Linked DNA regions of Homo sapiens. The protein of the gene in region 1 interacts with the protein of each later gene in a pairwise test. Each region holds a gene or a part of one and is shown in the gene's direction. Other genes may lie near its edges.

Region 1 (7,026 bases):
TCAGAGTTGGAGAATTTTGGAGATTTTTTATTTTAACATTTACTTAAAAACATGTAATGAAACACTTGTTGCTCTTTTTTTCCCTAAATTCCCAACTCCAAACCTGGTTGAAACACACACACACACACACACACACACACACACACACACACACACACATAGTAAAAAACAATAAGATCAAAGGAATTGATTTATTTAATTAAGTCAAATAATACACTTGAATGATACACTGAAATTTTCTCCTGCTGTGGTTTCTAATCATTATCTCACTTTTCAGGATACAGGATGGAGTTATTTTCATAGAGTATTCATTTAATTATGTTTACTGAGCACCTACTATACATCAGGGACACACAGGCTTAGGCATAAGGATTTAGTGATAACCTAGACACAGAGGATCCTTGGTTTCATAAAGCTTATGTCCTAGTGCAGAAAGACAGTGAAGGAACAAGTAAACAAATAAACGTAATTTTAAGTGGTAATGGGAGCTATGAAGAAAATTAAGCATAGACAGTGAATGCAGGGAGGCGGTTTTTTTAACTTGGATAGTCAGGGAAAAGCTTCTCAGAGGAGGTGACATTTGAGCGATATTAACACTAAGAAAAGCCAAGTATAAGAAGATCTGGGGAAATAATATTCTTGGTATAAGTAACAGCAAGTATAAAAGGCCTGCGCTGGGAACAAGCTTGGTGTATCTTCAATGAATGGCAAGAAATTGTGGCTGTGGCCTGTGAATGAATTGGAATTGGAGAGTTAATCAGGGGCCAGATCATGTAGATGCTTTTTTTTTTAACATGGCAAAATTTTGTCATGAATTTTTTTTTTTTTTGAAGAGAGACGGGGTCTTATTATGTTGCCCAGGATAGTCTCAAACTGCTGACTTCAAGCTATCCACCCTCCTCAGCCTCCCAGATAGCTGAGATTATACCCACAACTGGCTCAGATCATGTACACTCTTGTGGTTATGTTTAGAATTTAGGATTTCTTTTAAAGATGATAACTAATGGAGCTTGACTAAGGAGTGGTTGTTATATTGATCTGCAGAGCAGTAGAAGCAGGGACACTAAGAAGTAATTAGTCTTAATGAAAGATGATGGTGGTTGGGTGTAGTGCCTGATAATGTATTAATAGTGTTTTCAGGTCATTTGCTACTGAAAAGTGTGATACAATAAAAGTAGATAATTGGCCACTGCATTGAGTAACATGGAGGTCATTCATTGTAACCATGAAAGTGGTTTTAGTGAAGTGACTGGGACAAAAGCTTGAGTGGCATATATAAAAGAGAAAAATGAGGAATAATAGAGTGAGACCATGGGGATATAAAATTAGTAAGTTTTGCTGGTAAAGAAAATAGACAAAAAAGCAGCAGGATTGGGGGATGTCAGGATACTGTTTCGTGTGTATTTTTATTTTTTAAGATTAAAGCAATTACACATATTTGTATATTGATGGGAAACAACAAAATGGAAGGGGAAATGATGATGCAAGAAAGAAAAAGAATGCATAGAGGAATAATATGTTTAAAAGGTGAAAAGCAGTAGGACCCAGTTTATAACTGGTAGAGTTGACCTTGGTGGGAATACAGACAATACGTCTATTATAGCAGGATAGAATGCAGTGTGGATCCAAATAATATTAGGTTTACAGATTTGATGGATATCTGAGGTAGCTCTGTTTTTTCAAGAAAATATTAGGTGAGATCATAAGCTGAGACAGAATTAGATATTTTAAGAGACAGAACAAGTTGTTTGTTAATCATCTTATAGAATGGGGAAAAAAGTTTTTAATAGAGAAATGCAATAGGATTGCCCAAAGTGCTCTGCTCACATATAGCATGAGAGCAATTGATATGGTTGTATATGAAAGTACTTGGGTGTAGATACAGAATTTGCAGCTTGTCACATAATTGGAGTTTTACCAGGTAAGTAAATCAGTCATTTGGAATGCTACTTTTAACTGCCTACTCATCAGCTTAATCAGAAGCCAGACTCCACTGTTAATTTTCTGGGTCACCATAGCTAGATTTGTGATTTCTTTTTGCTCAATTTATTTATGTGTAAAATGAATTATCAATGCTTTATTTGTGGGAGCAAATGCAAAATAAAAATTGGCATGCATTAGGATTTCACTGGAAAAGAAATGTATAGTTTTGGTTTTGCTATCAGACCATCCCAGTTTGATATTCTGGCTTTGTTATTTATTAATTACATGACCATGAACAAAATTACTTAAATTCTGTGAGTCTCAACTTCTTCTTCCATAAAATGGGGATAATAATAATACCTGTATTCAAAAGTTTGATATTAGAAATAATATAAAAGCAACTAGCACAGTATGTAACATGTATCAAATAGTCAATATGCAATGTTATTAACACAATGATCATTACTATTAATAACGGTAATTAAGCAAACTATAGATTTAATAAAGTTATTGATTATTATCACCTTCTCTCATTAGGTATTGCAAATGCTGTTTTTAATGGACAAAGCGGTCAAATATTATTCAGAAGCAATGGGAATATTACCAGAGAACTCACCAATATCACATTTGGTTTCAGAACAAGGGATGCAAATGTAATAATATTGCATGCAGAAAAAGAGCCTGAATTTCTTAATATTAGCATTCAAGATTCCAGATTATTCTTTCAATTGCAAAGTGGCAACAGCTTTTATATGCTAAGTCTGACAAGTTTGCAGTCAGTGAATGATGGCACATGGCACGAAGTGACCCTTTCCATGACAGACCCACTGTCCCAGACCTCCAGGTGGCAAATGGAAGTGGACAACGAAACACCTTTTGTGACCAGCACAATTGCTACTGGAAGCCTCAACTTTTTGAAGGATAATACAGATATTTATGTGGGAGACAGAGCTATTGACAATATAAAGGGCCTGCAAGGGTGTCTAAGTACAATAGAAATCGGAGGCATTTATCTCTCTTACTTTGAAAATGTTCATGGTTTCATTAATAAACCTCAGGAAGAGCAATTTCTCAAAATCTCTACCAATTCAGTGGTCACTGGCTGTTTGCAGTTAAATGTCTGCAACTCCAACCCCTGTTTGCATGGAGGAAACTGTGAAGACATCTATAGCTCTTATCATTGCTCCTGTCCCTTGGGATGGTCAGGGAAACACTGTGAACTCAACATCGATGAATGCTTTTCAAACCCCTGTATCCATGGCAACTGCTCTGACAGAGTTGCAGCCTACCACTGCACATGTGAGCCTGGATACACTGGTGTGAACTGTGAAGTGGATATAGACAACTGCCAGAGTCACCAGTGTGCAAATGGAGCCACCTGCATTAGTCATACTAATGGCTATTCTTGCCTCTGTTTTGGAAATTTTACAGGAAAATTTTGCAGGTGAGCATAAAGTCCATATGAAGCTTGGTCTTTGAAGCTATACTCTGCATCACTGTTCTTGTCAAATTGGAAAGCTCTCTCCTCAAGGTATACATATATACTGTGCTGAACAGGGTGACACTGGTAGCTTCTGTCACAATTTGGTCATGTTCAGATGGGATCTCACTTACCAGGATATTCTACAGGTCAGAAAGGTAGTGTTTAAATCAGATTTTCAGCAAAATATTTTCTCAGTCATCTGTGTGAAAATATGTCTCATGAACTGTAGCCCCAGGGTCTAACAGTTTCAAGGCCTCGGGAAACAAATGCATTTACAATAAATGCAAAAGCTGAAATGTAGTATTGTTAGGGAAGGCATGACTTCTATTGCTAAAATAATGCCTTGAGCTATTTCAGGCAGGTAAATACTCTAAAATCCCGAAAACAGTACATTAAAGTATACAGCTGACTCTTGAACAACGCAGGGGTTAGAGGTGCTGATGTGCAGTTGAAAATCCACATTTAACTTTTAACTCTCCCAAAACATAACAACTATCAGCCTGGTTGACCACAAACCTTAACAATAACATAGTCAATTAACACATATTTTGTATGTCATATTCTGTCTTCTTACTATAAAGCAAGCTAGAGAAAATAAAATGTTATTAAGAAAATCATAGGAAAGAAAAAATAAATTTACTATTCATTAGTGGAAATTGATCATCAAAGATCTTTATCTTGATTGTCTTCATGTTGATTAGGATGAAGAGGAAGAGAAGGGGTTGGTTTTGCTGTCTCAGTGGTGGCAGAGGTGAAAGAACATCCACATATAAGTGAATCCACACCATTCAAACATGTGTTGTTCAAGGGTCAACTGTAATTTCAAAACAGTGGAATTATAATTCTCAGACAAATATAAAATAAACATGTTTTAATTATTCTGTCATTAATGAGGAAACTAGTAAGATATAAAAACTAATTCAAAGGACAATCTAAAGAATATGTATACGTATATATACAAACAAGAATGAGTGAATGAATTTATTAATAAATACAAAACTGTTTAATATCCCATAGGGCAAGAAAACTAGTATTTGAAGTCATCTTCAATACTGTGATAATCATTTGTATGGCTCACTACAGATAAACTAATTTGCATTTTGACGAACAAGATTTTCATATTAATATTGTTTTCTACAACTTACAGAATTGTAATAAGGCACAGACCACTGCAAAAGTGGATAATCCTGGATAGTCCTTTATGTAAACCCAGCAGTGCATTGAAAGAATATGCAGTGATTTTTTTTGCCCATTTCAAAGTATTTCACATTTTTCTACAACTACAAAAGCAGTATTTTAGTTCTTGTAACTACCTCCATTTCAAGCTATATAAACAGAGATAAGAAAGACTATTTTTCTTCTAAGTCACATTGCTTCAGTATTTCCATGTAAGAAGTTATTATTGTTTTTACAACTTACACCGCTTTAAATTTACTAAATAATTGAGTCATTATGGGGAGGTGAGAGGGTTATTATTAACAAGTAATACATTCCAGAACTTCGGCAAGAACACCTGGAATGGGTTGGCAGCCTGTAGACATTACACTAATTCAGAGGTGGTACCTTAATTGCATGAATCTCCTAGCAAACATAACATGTAGGCATACCTATAAGAAGTTGTACATCTCTCCTTAACAGTTACTGTTCTGAGCCTGTGAAAGCAAGGCACTGTTGTAGGTGCTAAGTGTTCCCAACAGGTAACCTGCCTGTTTAAAAGCAAGAAGAATTCAGGATCAAATTTAGTATATTTCACTGTGAATTTTGATAAGTAAAATAAACACATAGGCCCTAGTAACTACTTCTCCAGAATTTTTTTCTGCCTAATTCATTAAAGTCAAGTTCTGAAAGATGAAAGCCCTCAAAAATACCTTCTAATGAGATTCAGGAATTGTTTATTAAAACCAAGATGTATACAAAGCTTCATATTTGCATTGCTAATTGACCTCTTTCAAAGCTGGTTGACATTTTTGGCTCTTTTGAAAAGTCTTTATGATATCCTTCTTTTTAAAGTAGAATTGATTAGCTCTTGCGGGAAGAGACACACTTAGCATCATATAAGCTAGTCTATCCACATTAGCTGCAGCACACACAACAGAACAAAATTCAATTCATTTTACACTTCCTGAATATTTATTAGTTATCTGATACCATGCACATACACAGTGGGTCAAAGGGCCTAAGCAACACTATTAAACTCTTTAAATATCAGTCCCTTCACATTACTAGATTTTGTCTTACAGTGAAGTTCCGCTTAGCTTCTAATACTTGTTCCGCCTTTTATGAGGATTCTTTAACATGTAAAGCTTTGTTGCCATATCAGAGAGCCACACTCTGAATTCACATGCAGTTACCATCGTGTGCTATATACAAAGCTCCTGGACAGCATTTGGCTTGCATTCTTCGAAGCTATGAATTATTACATAGGGAGCAGCAAGTCTTGGCAGGGCAACTGGAGTTCAGCTCTGAAAGCCAATAGAGAAATCACATGAGTGCTTGGGTAGTAGAGTGCTGTCCTTGCTTCCTGGCCTTTATAGAGATGCAATTTTCCTATGGCCTTTATTGATTTATTAGCAAAGCAGCAGCAAATCTAGTTATAGCAAGTTCTTTTCCAACCCAAAATTTATTGCCACCCCATGGCATAGATCTTATCTCACAAACGAAAACTGTGTAGAAATGGAAGATGTATAGCCATGCTTGTCACAGAACCCTCCAGCAGGAGCTTTTTACTGGAGAAAGTGATTCTTGCATAATGCAGCACAATTAAGCATTTGTAGCTCCTCCAGCCTGAGTACTTAATTAGCTTGGCATTGACTACATACATGAATTTATCAGAAAACTTTTCTTGAATGAGATGAACAAGATGAACAGCTGTGGCTCTTGCTTTTATCTCTCTAGACAGAGCAGATTACCCTCAACAGTCTGTGGGAATGAGAAGACAAATCTCACTTGCTACAATGGAGGCAACTGCACAGAGTTCCAGACTGAATTAAAATGTATGTGCCGGCCAGGTTTTACTGGAGAATGGTGAGTCACATTAGAGCCTTCTGGAAGAGAATTCTGAGCTAAAGAATGATGGGATTACTCAAAGTTCATTTTCTCCTCTAATTTTTTATCTCAGTTCCCATAGGAAAATCTATGCTGAAATAGAGGTTCAGACAGAATGAAACAATAAAAAAGAAGAAAAACTACAGTTTAGGTCAAAGGGGAGAACATTTTATTAGACAAAACTTCAAATAGGGAAAAATGATTTTTAAAAAATGTATAATGTGCTATTTTTCTTTCTTATAAGTACTTCTGAATTCATGTCTCTTTTTTGTTGCTAACTCTAATACATGATGCAAATATGGTTGCTGTCGAGGTAAAATAAATTACAACTAAAAGATTGCCTCATAGAATTGCCTACAACCCAAAAGTATATATACCTTATCCATATGAGTCTACTTTTCCCAGAGAAACTCTTCAACTGTTCTTCACCTCATACAGGAATTCTTAAAATGGAGTTGGTCAATGGCTTCAGGCAATCTGTGACCTGCTGAAAATACAGGAAAATTAGAATATGTATTTGAGTGGCTAGGGGTAAGTTCAGGGGTAGAAATAATGCATACTGAATAGCTTTTATC
Region 2 (7,763 bases), on another chromosome or scaffold:
ATTCCAACTAAAGACCTCTTCCCCCACCATCAAATTACAGTATATGAGTTACACAAAAACTGGATATACCCCTATCTGTGTGGAACCAGAGAGCAAACCAGGACCTAGGATAGAAGTGAAAATCTCACGTGAGGGTATTTGTTCAATATATTAGTTCAGTAAAAGAAAATCTTTCCATGGGCCAAGACAATGCCACCAGGAAGTGGGTTTTGGTAGGCACCTTCTTTTTTTTTTTTTTTGAGAGGAGTCTCACTCTGTTGCCAGGCTGGAGTGCAGTGGCGCGATCTCGGCTCACTGCACCTCCACCTCTGGTGTTCAATCGATTCTCCTACCTCAGCCTACCAAGTAGCTGGGATTACAGGCGCCCACTACCACGCCCAGCTAATTTTTGTATTTTTTTAGTAGAGACGGGGTTTCACCATGTTGGCCAGGCTGGTCTCAATCTCCTGACCTCGTGATCCACCCACCTCGGCCTCCCAAAGTGCTGGGATTACAGGCGTGAGCCGCCGTGCCAGGCTGGTAGGCACCTTCTATAGCTACCCACAGTTATTTGTCTCAGCAACATTCTCTCTTTGAGGCTAATAGAATTTGGATTTGTTCAGAAAGTTAAGGAGAGCCCTTGGTCTCCAGCTCCCAAGGGTGAATCCTGACTGGTCTAAGCCAGTCATGGTATTCTCTTTCCCTATGGCCTTTAATTGGTCTGAGTTAGGGCAGGTAGTGTAGTTCTGGCCGGAGACAGGGGGTGCTGGTACTTTCTTCTCTGAATTAAAAGACAAGGCTTCAGGTAAAGGTCTTTTTCCCCTTCCCTTTTATTCCTGAAACTCAAGAAAGCTGGAGATAAGCATCCGTCCTGTGGCCAGTATGCTAGAAGCATGAAAACCAAGGTCAACATGCTAAGGGTGGCAAAGCAGAAATGGTAAAGGGGTTTAGGATCCTTACAGCATTGTTGAGGAGCAGAACCAGTACTAATAGCTGCCTACCTCTAGATTACTTATGTGAGAAAAATAAACTCCTTATTTTTCAAATAACAGTTAAAATTTCCCATTACTTCCAGCCAAATGCATTTTTCCTTGATACAGCTATATTTAAGGAGAGGGCTTTCTCTGTCTCTGGCAGAAGTCAATTTTCTGGTGAATTTATCACGAAACGTGTGTTACAGAGGGTCCCTATGTCTAGAAGAGAGGATCTGGGGAGACAATGATTTGTTATTAGGAATAATTTCACATAATTAGAACATGAACAACTTTCTATGACTTGGGCCCTTAAGTTTCATCCTCCTTTCCTCAAGTCTTCATATTTCCTTTAGCCTATAACCATCTTTCTCAACAGATTTCTCTAACCTCATCCACAGCCTCCTTCAGTTCCACCTTTTTTTTTTCTGGAGATGGAGTCTTGGTCTGTCACTCAGCCTGGAGTGCAGTGGCGCCATCTCAGCTCATTGCAACCTCCGCCTCCTGGGTTCAAGTGATTCTCCTGCTTCAGCCTCCCGAGTAGCTGGGACTACAGGCACACACTGGCACGCCTGGCTAATTTTTGTATTTTTAGAAGAGATAGGGTTTCACCTTATTGGTCAGGCTGGTCTCGAACTCCCGACCTCAGGTGATCTACCCGCCTCGGCCTCCCAAAGTGCTGGGATTACAGGCATGAGCCACCGTGCCCAGCCCCAGTTCCATCTTTGATAGGAGATAGAAAAAAAGATTGAGCAGGATGGATGAAGAGGACACTGTTTTTCAAAACTGGTATGCTTTTCAACAATTTAGGAGAATAAGATATGTTTATAAGTATTGACAGAATTCACTTCCATTTCTGATCTGTAATCAGATAAACCAGAACTTTTCAAATGAGTAAACATCAGGTAAACATGGAAAGAGACAGTCTGGACAGGCTGAGGGGATGGCACTGAAGACCCTGCAGTTTTCCAACTGGCTAATCAGACCCCTGGGAAGAAGGAATGCTTTTCGGGGTACCTGGCCCAGGTGGGTTTGTTTGTTGTTTTTTGTTTTGTTTTGTTTTTAGACAGAGTTTCACTCGCATTGCCCAGGCTGGAGTGCAGTGCAGAGAAAGCAGCTCACTGAAACCTCCGCCTCCTGAATTCACGCGATTCTCCTGCCTCAGCCTCCTGAGTAGCTGGGACGGTTTTCACCATGTTGCTCAGGCCAATCTCGAATTCCTGAGCTAGAACTCTTGAGCCTTGGCCTTCCAAAATGCTGGGATTACAGGTGTCCAGGTGGTATTTTTTTAAATACTCTTTTTTTTTTTTTCAGACAGAGTCTCTGTCGTCCAGGCTGGAGTGCAATGGTGCAATCTCAGCTCACTGCAACCTCCACCTCCTGAGTTCAAAAGATTCTCCTGCCTCAGCCTCCCTAGTAGCTGGGATTACAAGCATGTGCCATCACACCCAGTTAATTTTTGTATTTTTAGTAGAGACGGGGTTTTACCATGTTGGTCAGGCTGGTCTCGAACTCCTGACCTCAAGTGATCCTCCTGCCTCGGCCTCCCAAAGTGCTGGGATTACAGGCATGAGCCACCACATTCGGTCTAAAGGACTTTATTATGAAAAATTTTAGATAGAATAGTTTAACGTCCCCATCACCCAGCCTCAGTTTATGGCCCATTCTTGTTTCATCTATACCATTGCTGCTTCCCCCTGCCATATCATTTCGTTTTTTTGTTGAGATAAAGATGCAAGATGACCAGCAACAATTCCTCCCATCCCTGAACACCCATGCTGCTCCTCTCATGAAGAGTGATGAAAATATTCCACAATTAGATTGTGGTTTGTGGTTCTACAACTCTGTGAAAATACCCAAAGCCATGGAAGTGTACACTTTAAGTGGGTGCATTATATCTCAATAAAGATGTTTTTAAAAGGTGGAGAAGGAAAATTTCTCTATTTTAATAATATTTAAAGAAAAAAAAAGAGGTAGAGTCTCTTTCATCTCCTTGAAACTGGGCGGCCTCTGTGATTTGCTTAAACCATTAACAGGCAGCAGAAGGGACGCTCCGTGACTGCTGGGCATAGCCCTTCATAGGCCTCAGAGCTTCTGTTTTCACTGTTTTGCCACACCAGCGGATCTGCAAGAGAGTAGCCCAGGCAGAACTCAGCTGTTCTTTGCAGCCACCCCAGCGGAGATGCCACACAGACCAGTGAAACCACCTTGGCAGCTCCAGCACCTGTTGAGCTGCCCAGCCAACACCACATGGGGCAGAGATGAGCTGCCAAGCCTGTCTACTACGTTTTGGGGTGGTGGAGGAGTGGGCAGTGCCAAATCCCGAGAAGAAGCTCAATGAGTATTTGTCTCTTTTCATTTCAGCAAGCAGAGGGTCCTCAAGGTAACACCTTCCAGTGGCTCCCCCACCTCTCTCAGAGCTCTAGCCAGGGCCCACAAGGCCCTACATCTTACCCCTTTCCTCTCTGACTGTCACCTCCTCTTCCTCTTGCTTCCTCACTTCTAGCCACACTGGACTTCCTTGAAAAGACAGACCTGTCCCCTTGCAGGGCCTTTTGCCCTTGCTGTTCCCTTCGGTTCTCCCCAGATGGCCACAGGGTTCCTCCCACACCTCCTCTAGGTCTTCATTCAAATGCTACCTTTTTTTTTTTTTTTGAGACTGAGTCTGGCTTTGTCGCCAGGCTGGAGTGCAGTGGCGTGATCTGGGCTCACTGCAACTTCCGCCTCCCGGGTTCGAGCGATTCCCCTGCCTCAGCCTCCTGAGTAGCTGGGACTACAGTCGGACGCCACCAGGCTCAGCTAATTTTTGTATTTTTAGTGGAGACGGAGTTTCACAGTGTTGGCCAGGCTGGTCTCGATCTCCTGACCTCGTGATCCGCCCGCCTCGGCCTCCCAAAGTGTTGGGATTACAGGAGTGAGCCACCGCGCCCAGCCAAATGCCACCTTCTTATTGTGACCTGCTATGTAAAATCGCAAACCCTCACTGCCTGTGGTTATTCCCTACTTGTACTTTTCTTTTTAGCATTTACCAATGTCTGACAGTATTTAATTTCACTAATTTATCTCGTTTATTTTATGTCTCGTTTATATTCCTGCTATAACGTAAACTCCGGGAAGGATTTTTGTCTGTCTTGGTTGTCTGTCGTATCTCGTGTCTAGAACACAGAACTCACAGTAAGTAGGCACTTCAATCAATTACCTGTAGAATGAACGGACTGAATGTCACCTTGTTAGAGTACCCTCCTGACCACACTCTGCTAAGCAGTAATCTTTTATTTCTCTTTCCCAGTTTTATTTTTCCTCATTTACACTTAATCACCTTGTGACACCTATTTGTTTACTGTTTCCCCAGTAGAGTGAAAGTCACTTTAACAGCAGAGATTTAAATGTATTTTAATCCCTACAAAGGAGAAAAAGGGAGGAAATACGTGACAGGCTCTCAATAAGTATTTGCGAAGGATTTAATCTCTTGAACGAATGGATGAATGAATCTAGCAGCCAGCTCCACCAGCCTCCTTCGTGATAGGACTAACTGGGGTCTGTCTGCGGACGGGCGCCTCCTCCGCGGGCGGAGGGCCGCAGCGGGAACTGGGTTTCGGCAGCGCCCCTTTAAACCAGCCGCGGACGCCCGGCTGCTGGCGCTAGTTCCAGCCCGGCCGGGCCCGGCCTCGCCGGTTTCTCTCCAGTCGCCGCGCCGGCCAATTTCCGGGGCGGTGTCATCGCCCGTTTAAGAGCGGAGCGCTCCGCCCTGGGGGCGGAGCTGGGAGGGAGCTTTAAGGGGTGGACGGGCGGGAGGTCGGGGTCCTCCGGGGATTAGAGCCGGTGGGCTCGTTGTGGGCGCCATTTCTCGGCGTCTACCGAGGAGCCGCCCCTTTCTCAGCCTTGCTCGGCTCTTCCCCGCTCTGGTCGCCGGGGCTGCGCCGTCCCCAGCTCAGGTAAGCGCGAGGCCCGGCGGCGGCGCCGCAGTACAGTCCGCTGCGCTCCTAGCCGAGTGGACCCTTCCTCGCCCGCGCCTGCGGTAGCGGCCTTGTCCCCGGGGAGGCGGGCGGGGGCCGCACCCAGACCCTAGGGCGGCCGGCCCCTCTCTCGTCGGGCCGGCAGGGCATTAATCCCGCCGGAGGGAGGGGCGGCGGCGGCCAATGAGGCAGGGCCGCCGAGTTTCGGTCGATACCGCGCGACGGGCCGGGGCGGAGGGCCCGGGGCAGCCGGGTTAATGTTTGCCGAGCGGACGCGCTCCCCGAGCCGCGGGTACCCCTCGCTGGTCCGCTGGGCTGCCGTCCAGCGGGAGAGACAAAAGTCGCAAGGGAAGGGGAAAAACGAACTGAGTTTGTGTCACTGTCTTGGTGGACTTTTCGAGCTAACCTGTATTTGAGAAAAACTTCAGTCTCTTGGGAAAGGAGAGGCAGGTGTGTTCCCATGAAAGACGAGGTCTGAAGGTCCCGCCCCGCCCCCACCCGGGACGGTTGTCGTGCTAATGATGGGTTCTTTGGTGTGTAAATGTTAATTGTGTCTGTGGTTACTCGAATTCTACCTAAGAGCGAGACCCAACTCTTAAAACGTTTGGCAATATTTTAGACTAATATTAAAAGTTTTTAAAGAATTACGGGGAAAATTCCCATAACCGTGTACATTTGTAATGTAACCCACAACTGCATTAACTCAGTTTCTAACATAACCCGTTGCTGAGCTCTAGTTAACCTTGTTGGATTATTTGTGCATGTAATATGCTGTGCAGGCTTTAGAAAATAGGTTAACATTATTCGAAAACGATATGCGTAACTGCTGTTGAATTACTCGCTTGCATTTTCTTTATTGGGAATACTGGGACAAAATATAGTGTTACCTTAAATGGCATTTGCTGTATGTTATATTGCTTTATCAAAAAGCAATTAACCAACCATATTGTGGCCACCAGTCATGTAAGAGTATACATATTTCATGACTAACTTTTGGGTTTTGGGTACTTTTTTTAACCAACTTCTGATAGGATTGCTTAAATTTGCATTTTATGATTCTAAAGGAAATCCTTCTAGTTAGGAACTAGAGTAGAAACTACTGTTTTTTGGAAGCCACATAAACCTACCATCCAAAAATTCCACTGTGTCATTCTAGTGTGTCAGGCGAGATGCGGGTTAAGCCAGCTGTTGGGCCAAAGTAGTGAACAAGCCAGACGAAGTCTTTGTCCTTGTGTGTGAGTGGGGGAAGTAGTCAGTAAAAAAGATAATAATTAACAGATATTTAATTACAATTTCTTTGTTATAAAGAAAAGGCTAAGAGTACTGAAAGAGATGTCGAATTTAGACTCACAAGTCTGAGATTGCTTTTCTGAGAATAAGACATTTCAACTATAAGTCTGAAGTTAGTCCAGTGAAATGGGAGCGGGTGGAAGAGAGGTCAACTGGAAAAAGAGCAATCCAGAAAGGTGGAACAGCTAATGAAAAATGGTCCAGAATTAAAAAGACTCTCCGGCCGAGCAGCAAGAGTACAAGAGCAGAGCAAACAGAGGGGAGTAGGCTGACAGATGGGTCAGGCAAGTAGGAGGAGCTGCATCTAGGACCAGGGCCATTAAAGATTTTAGAACAGGGATCAGATTTGTGGTTGCCAAAAATCCAGTGGCTGCAACATGAAGAGCGCAATTGGAAGAGTGCAGGTGGGAGGGGAAAAGTGAGTATGAGAAAACTTTTTTCACAATCATTAAAAAAAAAAAAAACCCACAACTTTTAGTGATCCATTCATATTATTTTTTTTTTCCATTAAAAAAAATTAGGCCAGGCGCAGTGGCTCACGCCTGTAATCCCAGCACTTTGGGAGGCCGAGGCGGGCGGATCACGAGGTCAGGAGATGGAGACTATCCTGGCTAACACGGTGAAACCCCGCCTCTACTAAAAAAAATAACAAAAAATTAGCCGGTCGTAGCGGCGGGCACCTGTAGTCCCAGCTACTTGGGAGGCTGAGGCAGAAGAATGGCGTAAACCCGGGAGGCAGATCTTGCAGTGAGCCCAGATCGCGCCACTGCACTTCAGCCTGGGCAACAGAGCGAGACTCAAAAAAAAAAAAAAAATTAGGTGGGGTCTTGCTGTGTTGCCCAGGCAGGTCTTGAACTCCTGGCTTCCAACAGTTCCGCCTTAGCCTCCCAAAGTGCTGGGATTACAGACATGAGCCACTGTACCCAGCCATATATTCTTGTTGTGACTTCTGACATGCCCCTCTTCAGAGAGAATCTCAACAGTTTACGTGTGTGTCTGTTTAGCGTGTCTGTGTGTGTGCATGTATCCCATCTCCGTGTAGGATGAAACTCTCTTCAGTGTTCTGTGATTTGATTTTTCACTTAGAAATTTTGTCATATCTAAGTCAACTATTTATTTAAAACAACTGTATTATGGCTGGGCTTGGTGCCTCATGCGTGTAATCCCAGCACTTTGGGAGGCTGAGGTGGGAGGAATCCGATTCCCTGAGGCCAGGAGTTTGAGACAAACCTGGCTAAGTAGCAAGACCCTGTCTCTACAAAAAATCATTGAAAAAACGTTAGCCCGGTGGGATGGTATGTGCCCGTAGCCCTAGGTGGGAGAATCCCTTGAGCATGGTAGATGAAGGCCGCAGTGAGCCCTGGGTGCTAGAGTGAGACTGTCTCTAAAAAAAAAAAAAAAAAAACATAAAAATAAAACAACTGTATTGTATGCTGTTGTGTGTACCATAACTTGTTTAACTGTTTGCACATTGATGAACACATTTAAAATTTTCTTAAATCAGTTATGCTCCGAAAAATCCTGTTCCTACAACTTAAAGCACATGTGTGATTTTTTTTCTTTAGGT
Region 3 (7,026 bases), on another chromosome or scaffold:
CACATATTTGATTCCTTCCTTCCTTCCTCTCTCTCTCTCTCTCTTTCTTTTTTTTGATGGAGTCTCGCTCTGTTGCCCAGGCTGGAGTGCAGTGGTGCAATCTTGGCTCACTACAACCTCAGCCTCCCGAGTAGCTGGGATTACAGGCGCATGCCACCATGCCTGGCTAATTTTTGTAGTTTTAGTAGAGACAGGGCTTCAACATGTTGGCCGGGCTGGTCTTGAACTCCTGACCTCAGGTGATTTGCCTGCCTTGGCCTCCCAAAGTGCTGGGATTATAGGCGTGAGCCACCATGCCCAGCCCTTGACTTCTTTTTTTTTTATTGTGGAGAAAGGGCTGTGGCCAAAGTCCAAATCTGAAGATGATCCTACAGACTTCTTGGTAGAACTTTACTGCTGCCCTCTCAGACTTTTCTCCAGAGCAATCCAAGACCAAAAAAGTGCTTTAAGTTCATTCATTTCTCTAACACACTCGCCATGCTTCTTACCCACTCAGTAGCCTGCAGCTGACAAGACCAGACAGCTGGTGATTGTGGGTAGGTTAGGAAACTGAGCTGAGTGTCCCCTTTTCTGGGATACTGCATGTCCAACAAGGCCCAGTGACAATGCTGAGCCTGACCCTTTTCATGAAGGCTCAGTGATTCTTCTCCAGCCATGAGGTGCCTGAACTTCCCCTGCTAGGGACTTTACACATGTTGTCTCCTTAAACCCTCAGCAACATGGTCAGGTAGGTACTAAGTAGCATACTAATTTTATGGCTGACAAAACTGAGGTTAGAGAGATGGAGTGATTTGCCCAAGATCACACAGCTAAAAATGGTAGAGCTGGGATTTATACCTGCACCCCAAGCTATATGAGACAGTAGCAGTGTGTGGTCAGTGGCAGAGGAGATGGTGGTGCCCATCAGCTGGTGACTTCGGTCCAGTGGTATTTGTAGTAACAAACTCAAACTCACTGGATTTTCTTGTGTGTTTTCTTTTATTGCTGCTGTGCTCAACTATTATCAGAAAAAGTTAAGTAACAAAGCCAGCTGAGATCAAGGGCTCATTTTAAAAACAACAACCAGGACAAGCAGTGATCAGGAGATTTATGTATTCATGTATGTATTTACAGCCTGCCTTGTTCCAAAAAGGATTTAAGGGGCTGGGTCTAGGATTTGCTTTTAGGAGATTGTAGAAACAGTCCAGCCACCCATACTGCACCCACCAGGGTATTATTCAGGGGTCATTTGGCTTCCAAAAGAGGTCACCTGAGACCTAGCATGTTCCCTAATTAGCAGAGAAAGTTTGAATCCTTCAACTTGATTAAGAGTAATTTAGGATGCTTTCACAAGCAAAGATTGAAAGAAATTGTGGTTTCATAAGCAAAGATTGAAAGAAATTATGGGAAGAACATGGGTTTCAGAGTCAAGAAACCTGGGTTTCTAGTCTTGGGTCTGTCTACTGTCTAACCCTGGGCAAGTCACTTTACCACTCTGATAATTAGTCTTCCCATCTGTAGTGCAGGAGGTCAGATTAAATATTCTTTCCAGTGCTTTTGGATTTAGCTTTTCAGAAGGCAGAAGATCACCTTCACCTGTCCCTCCAAATTCTTTCTGATTGCTGATTTCCCACCAGGACTTCGTCTTCTATGCTCCCCGGCTGCGGATTAACAAGCGGATCTTGGCCTTGTGCATGGGGAACCATGAACTATACATGCGCCGTCGCAAGCCTGATACCATTGAGGTGCAGCAGATGAAGGCACAGGCCCGGGAGGAGAAGCACCAGAAGCAGATGGAGCGGTAGGTGCTGCACACTGATGTGGGGGGCCAGGGCTGGGGCAAGGAAGCTTCTCAAAGGTGCCCTGCATGCTAAGTCAGGACATGAGGCCAACCTAGGACTTCATAGATGAGAGGTTAGACACCAATATTCACATTTATTCAGAAAAAATCTACCAAGTTTGAGGGGCAGTTTTTACAGAGCTGGATCTAGCAGGAAACTGCCCTGTAGGACCTCACAGTCTACTCAGTCTAGTAGCAGAGAGAGGGAAAACAATATATACATAACTCAAGGTACAAAGGCCATGTCATTCATTCACTTAATAAATATTTATTGAGCAATGAATAAGAAAAGACCAAAAATCTCTGCTTTTGTGAAGCTAGCATTCTAGTGGGGAGGAGACGAACATAATAAATAAGCAAATTATGTGGTACATAAGATGGTTAAGAAGTGCTATGGAGACAAAAACATAGAAGAGGGATGGGGAGAAGGGTAAGCCAAGTATTCTGAGGGCCCAGATGGAGAATACCTAGCCAAGGGAGATAAGAAGGTTCCTGGAAGAGGTGCTAGGGCAAGAAAAAGCAAAAGCAAATACTTATTCCAGATTTGTAACAGACTCTGGGAAAAAGAAGCCTAGAGCTGGGCTTTAGGGCAGGCAGTGTTAGACCTGAGGACTGATGCACTAGCCGTAGAGATTACTAGACTTGAAGCACTTCATCCCAGCACAGAGCCAAAACTTGTCTCCCTAACAAGGTGGATAGGGCAGGTCTTATTGGACCATTTTCAAGATAGGGGAACAAGAGCAAAGCAGTGACATAGCTAAGGTCACCCAGTGGGTTGGTGGGAGAGCTAGGATTCCTGACTCAGGGGTACATTGACAGGGCCCCGTGTACACTGGCCTATGTGGGGCTATGATATGAGGACAAGGGTATAGAGGTAAGGGAGGGTGGCCCAAACTCACAATCCCTAAGTGTGTTGGGAAGGTTGGGTTGAGAGACCCAGAGGCAGCAAGCCTTGGAATTCCCCAGGCTTTTTTTTTTTTTTTTAGATGGAGTCTTGCTCTTTTGCCCACGCTGGAGTGCAGTGGCGCAATCTCAGCTCACTGCAACCTCCGCCTCCTGTCTTCAAGCAATTCTCCTGCCTCAGCCTCCTGAGTAGCTAGGACTACAGGCGCATGCCACTATGCCCAGCCAATTTTTTTTGTATTTTTAGTAGAGACGGGGTTTCACTGTGTTAGCCAGGATGGTCTCGATCTCCTGACCTCGTGATCTGCCCACCTCGGCCTCCCAAAGTGCTGGGATTACAGGTGTGAGCCACCGCGCCTGGCCTCCCCAGGCTTTTGTGGAGCGTTGTTATCCTGTTCTATCCATTTTATCTCCTTCCCTAGTGCTATGCTGGAAAATGAGAAGAAGAAGCGTGAAATGGCAGAGAAGGAGAAAGAGAAGATTGAACGGGAGAAGGAGGAGCTGATGGAGAGGCTGAAGCAGATCGAGGAACAGACTAAGAAGGCTCAGCAAGGTGAGGCTTGGAGTCACCTTGGAGATTGGATTTTTCCAGGCCTAACTCTGAGCTGGAGAACCTTCTGCCTGAGCTGTAGACTCAGACAATGTAGTTCAGGTGTGGCTACAGACTAGAAGAAGAATGGGCAAGAAGAGAGCTCAGAACTTTCTGCCAGCTTTGTCTTGGGGTGGATCATTTCCAGGAACGAAGCTATTGTGTCGTCTTTATCTCTGTGCTCTTCACTGCCTTCTCCCCTCCTTTTCTGCTCAGAACTGGAAGAACAGACCCGTAGGGCTCTGGAACTTGAGCAGGAACGGAAGCGTGCCCAGAGCGAGGCTGAAAAGCTGGCCAAGGAGCGTCAAGAAGCTGAAGAGGCCAAGGAGGCCTTGCTGCAGGCCTCCCGGGACCAGAAAAAGACTCAGGAACAGCTGGTAAAGCTGTAGGGTGGGCTGGGATTATGGGAACTGAACTTTCTTCCTTGTCTGCCTACTTACTTATAGCTACTTTTGCTTACATGCTGGCTTTTTAGAGCAGGCTACCACTCCATGGGCCTCCAGCAAATAACTAGTTCAGAAGCAAGCTGAGAAGTCACTAGTGTGGCCCAGAAATTTTTGCAGTCTTCCCTAACCCTTAGTTTCTGTTCACTTTCTTAACTCTTGGGTATCTGAGCTGATTGACCTGGCAAAGGAAAGGGAAGGAGAAAAGAACAAAAGGGACTCATATTTGAGCTCCTGCTGTATGTTGCTGTGTTGGGAATATTTCCCTTTTCCTTACTTATTTCTTCTTCCCAGTAACCCTATGGGATTAACCTCATATGAGATAATATCCCAGATAAGGAAATTAGAGCTCAGGGAAGAGATTCACCAAAGATCACACAATTGTAGCTAAATAAGGATTAGAACCCACCCATTTCTGCCTCTGTTTGAAAGCTTTGCTCCCTGAAATCACATGCAAAACTATGTGTCTATGCATTTTTGGGGCATTTGGCATCCATACTTTCATCACAGTTTCCAAGGGTTCTGTGACTCAGAAGTTAAGAACCTGTGGTCCAAACTCCTTGACATATACTCTTCCTTTGTACTGTTGGAGGTGGGAATAGAGGGAACCAAGACCTGTCTCTCATGAGGAAGCTGTCATGGGAGATTTACCCAAGGTGTGCATAAGCTTTTTTCCTTGTTCAGATAGCTTTGTGACACTTGAGTGTCTTTCCTGTACTTGTCCTGGGAAGACTCTTAGTCGAATCCTGAGCATTCTAGGATATCAGGAAAGGATCTGCCACTTCAGGAAGTGACCCAATGATGGCCAAAGCTTTACTGAGGCCCCCAGCTGCATACTTGCCAAGAGGGGCAGGGGGAGAGATAATGAGGAAGGGACAGAGATGGCATATTGTTTGTCTTCAAGAGGCCTACAGTCTAGGTGGGGGAGCTCTGACTTAAAAGGAAGTGGTGGTCAGGGAAGATGGGACTGGAATGAAGTAGTCTGGTAAAAGAGTCTCTGAGGCAGCAAGCAAGTGGAGCAGTAGGTCCCTTACTAGTCCCCCAGGGGACTTGGGTTGAAGACACCTGGGTCCTGAGGACCAGAAGGCCCAGCTCTCACAGGCTTCCAATTTATCCGTAGGCCTTGGAAATGGCAGAGCTGACAGCTCGAATCTCCCAGCTGGAGATGGCCCGACAGAAGAAGGAGAGTGAGGCTGTGGAGTGGCAGCAGAAGGTAAGACACAGGGCCTAAAGCAAAGCATTGAAGGAATGGGTGCCATATGCATAGGTAACAGCTCCTTAGATTCCTTATGTTTTGGCTCCCTCCCTCTTTCATACTTCCCACAGCAGGCAGCATGGGAGAAGGCACTCATGGTTTCGTCAAATACTTACTGGAGTTCTCTAATACCTCTAGGAAGTTGGTACAATTGCTCTTGTTTTATGGATGAAGAAACTAAGGATCAGGCAGATGAAGTGCCTTGTCCTACCTGGTGCCTGCCTCTTGCCAGACCGTTCTAGGCATATACAGGATGCCACAGTTTAACTGGTCTCACTGACAGTCTTTCTCTCCTTCTGTCACTGGACAGGCCCAGATGGTACAGGAAGACTTGGAGAAGACCCGTGCTGAGCTGAAGACTGCCATGAGTACACCTCATGTGGCAGAGCCTGCTGAGAATGAGCAGGATGAGCAGGATGAGAATGGGGCAGAGGCTAGTGCTGACCTACGGGCTGATGCTATGGCCAAGGACCGCAGTGAGGAGGAACGTACCACTGAGGCAGAGAAGAATGAGCGTGTGCAGAAGCACCTGAAGGTATACAAGTAGGGCCAAGGGGCAAGGAAACTATATGCATTGATTTAGTAGCCCATGGCATTCCCTAGACCATCATGGGGGATAGGTATAAGATCCTGTCCCAGTGTTGTATGGGAGCCCAAGCCGTTCTTAAGTGACAGCTTTAAGGATAGGCACCTCTCACTTATTAATCAGACCTTGGGCTATCTCTTCCCTTTTTGAGATTTTCTCTCTGCCCCACCTCCCACTCACTCCATTCACCTCTTACATTAAGAAAATATCTAGCTGACAAAATTCCCACCTGAATCTTTTGTATGTTGTTCTACTCTTAAAGGATACCCATTATCAACTGGTCCCCTAAGTTTATTTATTTTTTTTTAATATTCTTGCCCCACTGCAGTTCTAACAGAGTTGGAAATGACTCTCAATATTTATATATAGAGAGAAAGGGTGAGGAAGAAAGAAGGAAACAGAAGAGAAGGGAAGTCTGGTCAAATAACAGGAGGTAAAATGAGAGAAAGCCATTGACCTCTGTGTTCCCATACATCCTCACAGGCCCTCACTTCGGAGCTGGCCAATGCCAGAGATGAGTCCAAGAAGACTGCCAATGACATGATCCATGCTGAGAACATGCGACTGGGCCGAGACAAATACAAGACCCTGCGCCAGATCCGGCAGGGCAACACCAAGCAGCGCATTGACGAATTTGAGTCTATGTAATGGGCACCCAGCCTCTAGGGACCCCTCCTCCCTTTTTCCTTGTCCCCACACTCCTACACCTAACTCACCTAACTCATACTGTGCTGGAGCCACTAACTAGAGCAGCCCTGGAGTCATGCCAAGCATTTAATGTAGCCATGGGACCAAACCTAGCCCCTTAGCCCCCACCCACTTCCCTGGGCAAATGAATGGCTCACTATGGTGCCAATGGAACCTCCTTTCTCTTCTCTGTTCCATTGAATCTGTATGGCTAGAATATCCTACTTCTCCAGCCTAGAGGTACTTTCCACTTGATTTTGCAAATGCCCTTACACTTACTGTTGTCCTATGGGAGTCAAGTGTGGAGTAGGTTGGAAGCTAGCTCCCCTCCTCTCCCCTACCACTGTCTTCTTCAGGGTCCTGAGATTTACACGGTTGGAGTGTTATGCGGTCTAGGGAATGAGACAGGACCTAGGATATCTTCTCCAGGATGTCAACTGACCTAAAATTTGCCCTCCCATCCCGTTTAGAGTTATTTAGGCTTTGTAACGATTGGGGGATAAAAAGATGTTCAGTCATTTTTGTTTCTACCTCCCAGATCGGATCTGTTGCAAACTCAGCCTCAATAAGCCTTGTCGTTGACTTTAGGGACTCAATTTCTCCCCAGGGTGGATGGGGGAAATGGTGCCTTCAAGACCTTCACCAAACATACTAGAAGGGCATTGGCCATTCTATTGTGGCAAGGCTGAGTAGAAGATCCTACCCCAATTCCTTGTAGGAGTATAGGCCGGTCTAAAGTGAGCT
Region 4 (6,612 bases), on another chromosome or scaffold:
GCACCTGTAGTGACAGCTACTTGAGAATCTTAGGCAGAAGGATCACCTGAGCCCAGGAGGTTGAGGCTGCAGCGAGCTCTCATTGTGCCAACTGCACTCCAGCCTGGGCAACAGAGTGAGACTCTGTCGAAAGAAAGAAAGAGAGAGAGAAAGAGAGGAAGAGAGAGAGAACCTGTGAGGAAATATACTGATGGCAACAGTAAGGAATTATGGAATTTCTTCATTGATCTACTTTTTTTTTTTTTTGAGACAGAGTCTCGCTCTGTGCCCAGGCTGGAGTGCAGTGGCGCAACCTCGGCTCATTGCAAACTCCGCCCCCAGGTTCAAGCGATTCTCCTGCCTCAGCCTCCTGAGTAGCTGGGATTACAGGCGTGCGCCAGCGTGCCCGGCTGATTTTTTGTATTTTTAGTAGAGATGGGGTTTTGCCATGTTGGCCAGGCTGGTCTTGAGCTCCTGACCTCAGGTGATCCACCCACCTCGACCTCCCAAAGTGTTGGGATTACAGGTGTGAGCCACCGTGCCCGGCCTGATCTACTTTTATATATCTTCTAAGCTTTCTATATACAAGTAAACAGAATAGTTTGCTATATAATGAAAATGACAAGAATATATTATCCTCTCCAAATGAGACAGTATACTCTAGACCAGTAGTTCTGAAGCTTTATTGTAATTCCTCCAGAAGAATCACCTGGAGGTCTTGTTGAAACACGTATTGTTGGACTTCATCCCCAGGCATTCTTGGGTCCCAGTGGTCTTGGGTGAGGCCTGAGAATTTGCATTTTTACCAAGTTTTAAGATAATGCTGATGCTGCTAGTCTGGGGCCCATACTTTGGGAACCACTGCTACAGTAATGAAAAACCCCAGTTATGGTGTCAGCTAGCCCTGGTTCTCAGTACTGTTCTTAACACTTACTAACTGTGTGACCTTGGGCAGATTACTTAACCTCTCTGAGCCTCACTTTCCCCCATAAAATCAGTTTTAAAATATACATTTGTTTTCACCTTTTAACATTTCCCGATATCAGAATGTTTACTACTGGGCATGACAAAGTTTGATAGTGGGCATGACAAAGTTTAAATGGCTACATGTTTCTTTCTGATTGGCAAATGCAAAAATGGTGCATCTTACAACTGATGGTGCCTAAGATGTGAGGAAATATAATCGCTACCTTAAAGGGTTGTCAAGAGTTAATATGTGTCAAGTACTTAGCATGGTGTCTGGCACAAAGTAAAATCACTTAAAATGACAATCGATTTTAGCTGGTAGTGAAAAGGAACAGGAACTGTAGAGTAAGGCTTAGGGAGCAACTGACAGTGTGAAAATGGAACCCAAATTGAGATTGATCTCCTCTTTCCTGTTTCTTCTCCAGGCAGACTTCAGAGACAGTAAATTACAGTGCTGTCCTGGCCCGACTTCCCCGCTGATCCCAGCAGCGACCCTGAGGCCTTTGACAGAGACCGTCTCCACAGTGCAGACCATTTACACCACCCGGAAACCTGTTTCTCTGGCAGCCAGGTAGGTCAGGTCAGCAGGTTCCGACAGGTAATTCTGGTGACAGGGAAACCAGGGAGACTCTAGGTTCATTGTGTTTGTGACACGTACAGGCCTTTCCTACATTCTTTCATTTATTCTGTAAGTATTTATTGAAATGTCTATAAAGGGGCCAGGTGCGGTGGCTCTCATCTGTAATCCCAGCACAAGGGAGGATCCCTTGAAGTCAGGAGTTCAAGACCAGCCTGGCTAACATGGTGAAACCCCATCTCTACTAAAATTAGCCAGGCGTGGTGGTGCACACCTGTAATTCCAGCTACTTGGGAGGCTGAGGCAGGAGAATCACTTGAACCCAGTAGGTGGAGGTTTCAGTGAGCTGAGATTGCACCACTGCACTCCAGCCTGGGCAACAGAGTGAGACTTTGCCTCAAAAAAAAAAAAATGTTTACAAGGGTAGGCTGTTAGAGGAGATAGACAACAAATGAGTGTGTGTGTGTGTGTGTGTGTGTGTGTGTGTGTGTGTGCGTGTGTGTGATATTGACAAGGGATAGGGAGGAAAATGAAATTGTGAATGGCAATAAGGTATCCTGGGATGGCCTCAATGAGGTGGCATTTAAGCAGAGCCCTGAAAAGGGCTATAGAGAAAGCTGCAGATACCTGGGAGGAGTACTGCGCAGAGCAACCAGCCAGTGCTAAGGCTCCTGAGGAAGCATGTGCCTGACATGGTTACGGAAGTTTAAGGGGCCAGCGTGGCCAGAGCAGAGTGAATGACAATAGAGGAGGCCTGTGAAGTTGTGGGTTAAGGCCAGACTGCGTAGGGCCTTGTTGGCTACAGTAGAAACTTTGTTTTCTACCCTGAATGAAATTATTAAACTTGGTTAGTGCCTTTAAAGATGTGTATTTTGCCAGGCATGGTGGCTCGTGCCTGTCATCCCAGCTACTCAGGAGGCAGAGGTGGGAGGATCAGTTGAGGCCAGGAGTTCAGGAGTTCAAGTCCAGCCTGGGCAACATAGCAAGGCCCCATCTCTAACTAAAAACAATGAAAAGATGTGTATTTACTCTGTGTGTGTGTGTGTGTGTGTGTGTGTGTGTGTGTGTGTGTGTGTTTAAACAGTGGAGACAGGTTACATAGATATGCAACTGGACCTGAGGTCCAAAAAGTCAGAGGCAACTTCTCAAAACAGCCAATTTTACTTCATTCAATTTGATTCATTAAAATATAATTAATTATTTGTTACAACATTCCCTCAGATATTCATCAAATGAAAGCCTGGGAGAAAATGCACATGAAACCAATTTAAAGCATGATTTAAATAAATCTAACCCCTGGACATCTTCATTCAAAAGTCTTTACTGAGGGCCGGGCTTGGTGGCTCATGCCTGTAATCCTAGCACTTTGGGAGGTCGAGGCAAGTGGATTGCCTGAGCTCAGGAGTTCGAGACCAGCCTGGGCAACACGGTGAAACCCCGTCTCTACTAAAATACAAAAAATTAGCTTGGCATGGTGGCACGTGCCTGTAATCCCAGCTATGCTGGAGGCTGAGACAGAAGAATCGCTTGAACCTGGGAGGTGGAGGTTGCAGTGAGCCAAGATCACGCCACTGTACTCCAGCCTGGGTGACAGAGTGAGACTCCATCTCAAAAAAAAAAAAAAAAAAAAAACACTTTACTGAGTGGCTGCCATGCACCAGATACTGCGCAAGGCTCTGGAGGTTTAGAGATGAATGACATATAGTCAGCCAGGAACTCTCAGCATGGTGGGACTGAGAAACCAGTAAGTAGCCAATTTCAGATCACTGAAATGCTAGCAAATGTAGATAGTCCTCAAGGAGTCTAAAAAAGAAAGTCCAACACTGAGATCAGGAAAGAACCTGGGAGATGATACTTAAGCTGTCTGCTTCTGCAATTTTTGAGGGATTGTCTCACTATTTTGTCACATACTTTTTTTTAGTGCAGAGACACTCCGGCAGGAACTGGAGAGAGAGAAGATGATGAAAAGACTGTTGATGACCGAACTGTGAAATTCTCCCCTTGTCACCTGGAAGATGGCATGGTGCCTTCTGTCCGTCTTCTTTCTTCGGGCTTTGTGTGCTCACTCTAGCACAGCATACAAGTGTGTGCTCTGTTCGCCCAGGTCTCCATGGTTAGTTGAAGCCAATTTCTGGCTTGACTTTTATGGGAAAAGTTATTTTATGTCTCCTAAGCATTAGAGTTTTTCTATTACTCTATGTAGTTGAGACAGGATTTGATAAGTCTAGGAAAAGAAAGATGGGAAAACGGGATTCCTTTTCAGAAGTACCTGTGTGTATCTGTTAATAACCACAGGGGTTAATATGATGTAGGATCTTTTACTATCAATTTCAACCATTTGATTTTGTATGATTGAAACTTGCACCGAGCTTTGACTGTTTGTTAAAGAGTCATTTTTAATGAAAGAATAATTCTTTATTGCTGGTTTTTCATTTACACTGATAAATACACAGATCTTATAAAGTCTTTAACATTCATTTGTATTCAGATGTGAGTAGAAGAACTAAAAAAAGAAAGTTACATATCACTATGACTGAAGGTACTTCAGCTTAATCTGAAATATAATTTAACTTGTGAACTCCTTGGATATGATATTATTTGGAATAAACAGAATTTATCATTGAACCCAAAGTAGGAAATGATAGCTTACATTGTCTAAAAATCCTTACAAGGTTAAGATGATTCAATATCAAGAAGATTCAGAAAATTATTTCTAAAGTTGATCGATTCATGTCGTATTGATAGAATCTTGACCAGAAGAAATTTTGCTCTTTTTATATAGTTTCAAGAAATGTGTTTTTAAATTTTTATTAATGCACTTGAACAACTTTGCAGGAATAAAGCAACCCCCTAACCACAAAATATCCCTCTAAATTAGTTCCCTAGCTTTCTCAATGAATACACACATATTTTTACATAGCTATGATCGTTGTGTACATTCTCCTTTGTTTTACTTCTCGGCCTAACACTTGTCTCCTCTTGTCAACACAGATTCTACTCTCACCAATTTAAATGTCTTTATATCCATGTAACATGGGTAACCTCACTTCACCCCATTATTAGATATTTGAGTTATATCTAATTTTTCACTCTTATAAATAGTGCTGCTATGAATGTCTGTAAAAAAAAAAAACTGCTCCTTCTTTTGGATTATTCCCTTAGGAATATCTCCAAAGAGGGATTACAAGGTCAAAGAGCATGAAGTATTTTATAGCTCTTGTTTTATATTGCCAGATTGCTTTCTAGAAAGATCCAATCTTTGGGTTGGAAGGACCTTAAAGGTCATCTAGTTTAGCCTCCCCACCCCCTCTGAATGCTTGAATCCCCTCGACAATTTATGATGCCACCAGCAATGTATAAGCATTTCTGTTTACCAATAGCTCTGCCAGTATTGGGTTTTGCCATTTTTATTTATTTTTGCTAGTTTAATAGGTATGTATAGTTGTTCTTGAAGAGTTGTTTTATTTCATTAATTGCTAGCAAGGCTGAGCACTTTTCCATGTGATGATTTACTAGTTGTATTTCCTTGTGTGTAAAATGTTCATTCATTTCTTATGACCACTTGTTAAGAGGAACTGATCTCATATATTTGTATCAGAACTGTATTTTTATGTTATATTGTATAGTTTGCTCTCCTGCCCCTCTCCTTAAAACTGAATGGTGCCAATAATTTGATACTAATGACTACAAAAAAAGGTAATGCCTCATTTACTAGTATTGTTGTAAAATGAGGAATGTATGTGAATATTCAGATAACCGAGGATTAACCCTTTAAGTGCTGAATCTTTAAAATTTTAATATATTTTTTTTTGAGGGAAATCTTTCTAAAATGTATTACGCACTTCCCTGCCTTAGTAAACAGAGTATACTGGAGAGTATTTAACCTTTTCTTGATGAGTCATGGTCATGATTATAAACATCAGCCCCTTTTATACCTTGGTACGGTGCAGTGATATCATTAAGAGCTATCAATATGTGTAGGGCTTGGCTTGGCCTTTTATAGGATATTATGCTGTTCTCACTGATGGTTTTTTACTGCTCTCTGCTCTGTCAGTGGAGCTATCCGGGGCAATTGTAGCGTTTGGGTCCTTTTACCCCTATGTCCCCCGGCTATACTTTTAAAACAGCTTTAGCTGTTCTTTATCTTGTGCACATGATACAAAATATGTTCCCGTACAATATGGGGCTGTCACTTCTTGCCAACCCAGCACCCTCTTCCTCTTCTAACCTGCTTTCTGAGGCTTCTGCTCTTCACCTCCTGCTCGCTGATGGAAACCTCCAGGGCAAAGCTGAAGGTTTCTTGGGGAAGCCAGGAAAGCCAGTATTTCCTATGTGTCAGATCTGCTTGGCTTCCAAGAAGGGATGCATGGGCTTTTTGGCCAGTGTTTCCAGGAGGCTCTGGGCTTCCTGCTTCTTCCCCGCTTCCCCCAGAGTTCACAGATGTTGAAGTTTCTGAAGGTTGACGTCACTGGAAGTCTGACCACAAACAAGTTGGCTGTTACTGTATTTGAAACCCAGTACCTTTGGCAGCTCACCTCTAACCAGTAAAATAAGAGGATTCCATGGTTTCAGCAGTTGTCCTGGTTATTTGCCTATTTAAGTGAATGATGGGTGCTTGGCATTGTGACTGAGAAGATGAAATTGTGCTGGATGGATTCATAGGGATGAAAATGAATTGGCGCAATTGTTTCACATTTTTTATATATTTTAAACCCAAACAACAGCACTATATGGGCACACAACACACACCTTATGTCCGGGGGAAACAATCAGCTTACTGACATAGTCATTCCAGAGCTAGGGCTCCAAACTGTAGGATGCAGATTCCCAGTAGGCATGGAAGGTTATTGCAAGGGGTCTGGGAAACCTGCAACCCACAGCTTTATGGATTGTAAACTGCATAGGAAATTCTATGTTTGAAGAGTTTGAGATCCTAGGGCATTCAGAAGATCCCACTTGCATGCACCCAGAATTTTATATTCCCCAGGAATATAGCAGAGGAATATTCTGGTATCATATTTATCTTTCACCATCTCAAAAATTACAGTTTTAAAAACTCAAATAAAATTCATCACTATAACCATTTTAAA

The links.
Region 2: the proteins of CRB1 (region 1) and EPB41L5 interact in binary tests that used the Homo sapiens proteins (3 or more experiments, as listed by UniProt).
Region 3: the proteins of CRB1 (region 1) and MSN interact in a two-hybrid assay, tested with the Homo sapiens proteins (one study listed by IntAct).
Region 4: the proteins of CRB1 (region 1) and EPB41L4B interact in a two-hybrid assay, tested with the Homo sapiens proteins (one study listed by IntAct).

The regions. Positions count from the first base shown.
Region 1 is NC_000001.11:197,432,246-197,439,271, forward strand, and holds part of CRB1 (protein crumbs homolog 1 isoform 1 precursor), read left to right. Parts: intron 1-2,460; coding exon 2,461-3,367; intron 3,368-6,301; coding exon 6,302-6,430; intron 6,431-7,026. UniProt on the Homo sapiens protein: Plays a role in photoreceptor morphogenesis in the retina. May maintain cell polarization and adhesion.
Region 2 is NC_000002.12:120,008,326-120,016,088, forward strand, and holds the start of EPB41L5 (band 4.1-like protein 5), read left to right. Parts: upstream 1-4,751; 5' UTR 4,752-4,885; exon of another isoform or gene 4,886-5,356; intron 5,357-7,763. UniProt on the Homo sapiens protein: Plays a role in the formation and organization of tight junctions during the establishment of polarity in epithelial cells.
Region 3 is NC_000023.11:65,733,651-65,740,676, forward strand, and holds part of MSN (moesin), read left to right. Parts: intron 1-1,616; coding exon 1,617-1,780; intron 1,781-3,144; coding exon 3,145-3,275; intron 3,276-3,527; coding exon 3,528-3,688; intron 3,689-4,874; coding exon 4,875-4,967; intron 4,968-5,319; coding exon 5,320-5,544; intron 5,545-6,078; coding exon 6,079-6,243; 3' UTR 6,244-7,026. UniProt on the Homo sapiens protein: Ezrin-radixin-moesin (ERM) family protein that connects the actin cytoskeleton to the plasma membrane and thereby regulates the structure and function of specific domains of the cell cortex.
Region 4 is NC_000009.12:109,171,455-109,178,066, reverse strand, and holds the end of EPB41L4B (band 4.1-like protein 4B), read left to right. Parts: intron 1-1,370; coding exon 1,371-1,516; intron 1,517-3,443; coding exon 3,444-3,513; 3' UTR 3,514-6,093; downstream 6,094-6,612. UniProt on the Homo sapiens protein: Up-regulates the activity of the Rho guanine nucleotide exchange factor ARHGEF18. Involved in the regulation of the circumferential actomyosin belt in epithelial cells.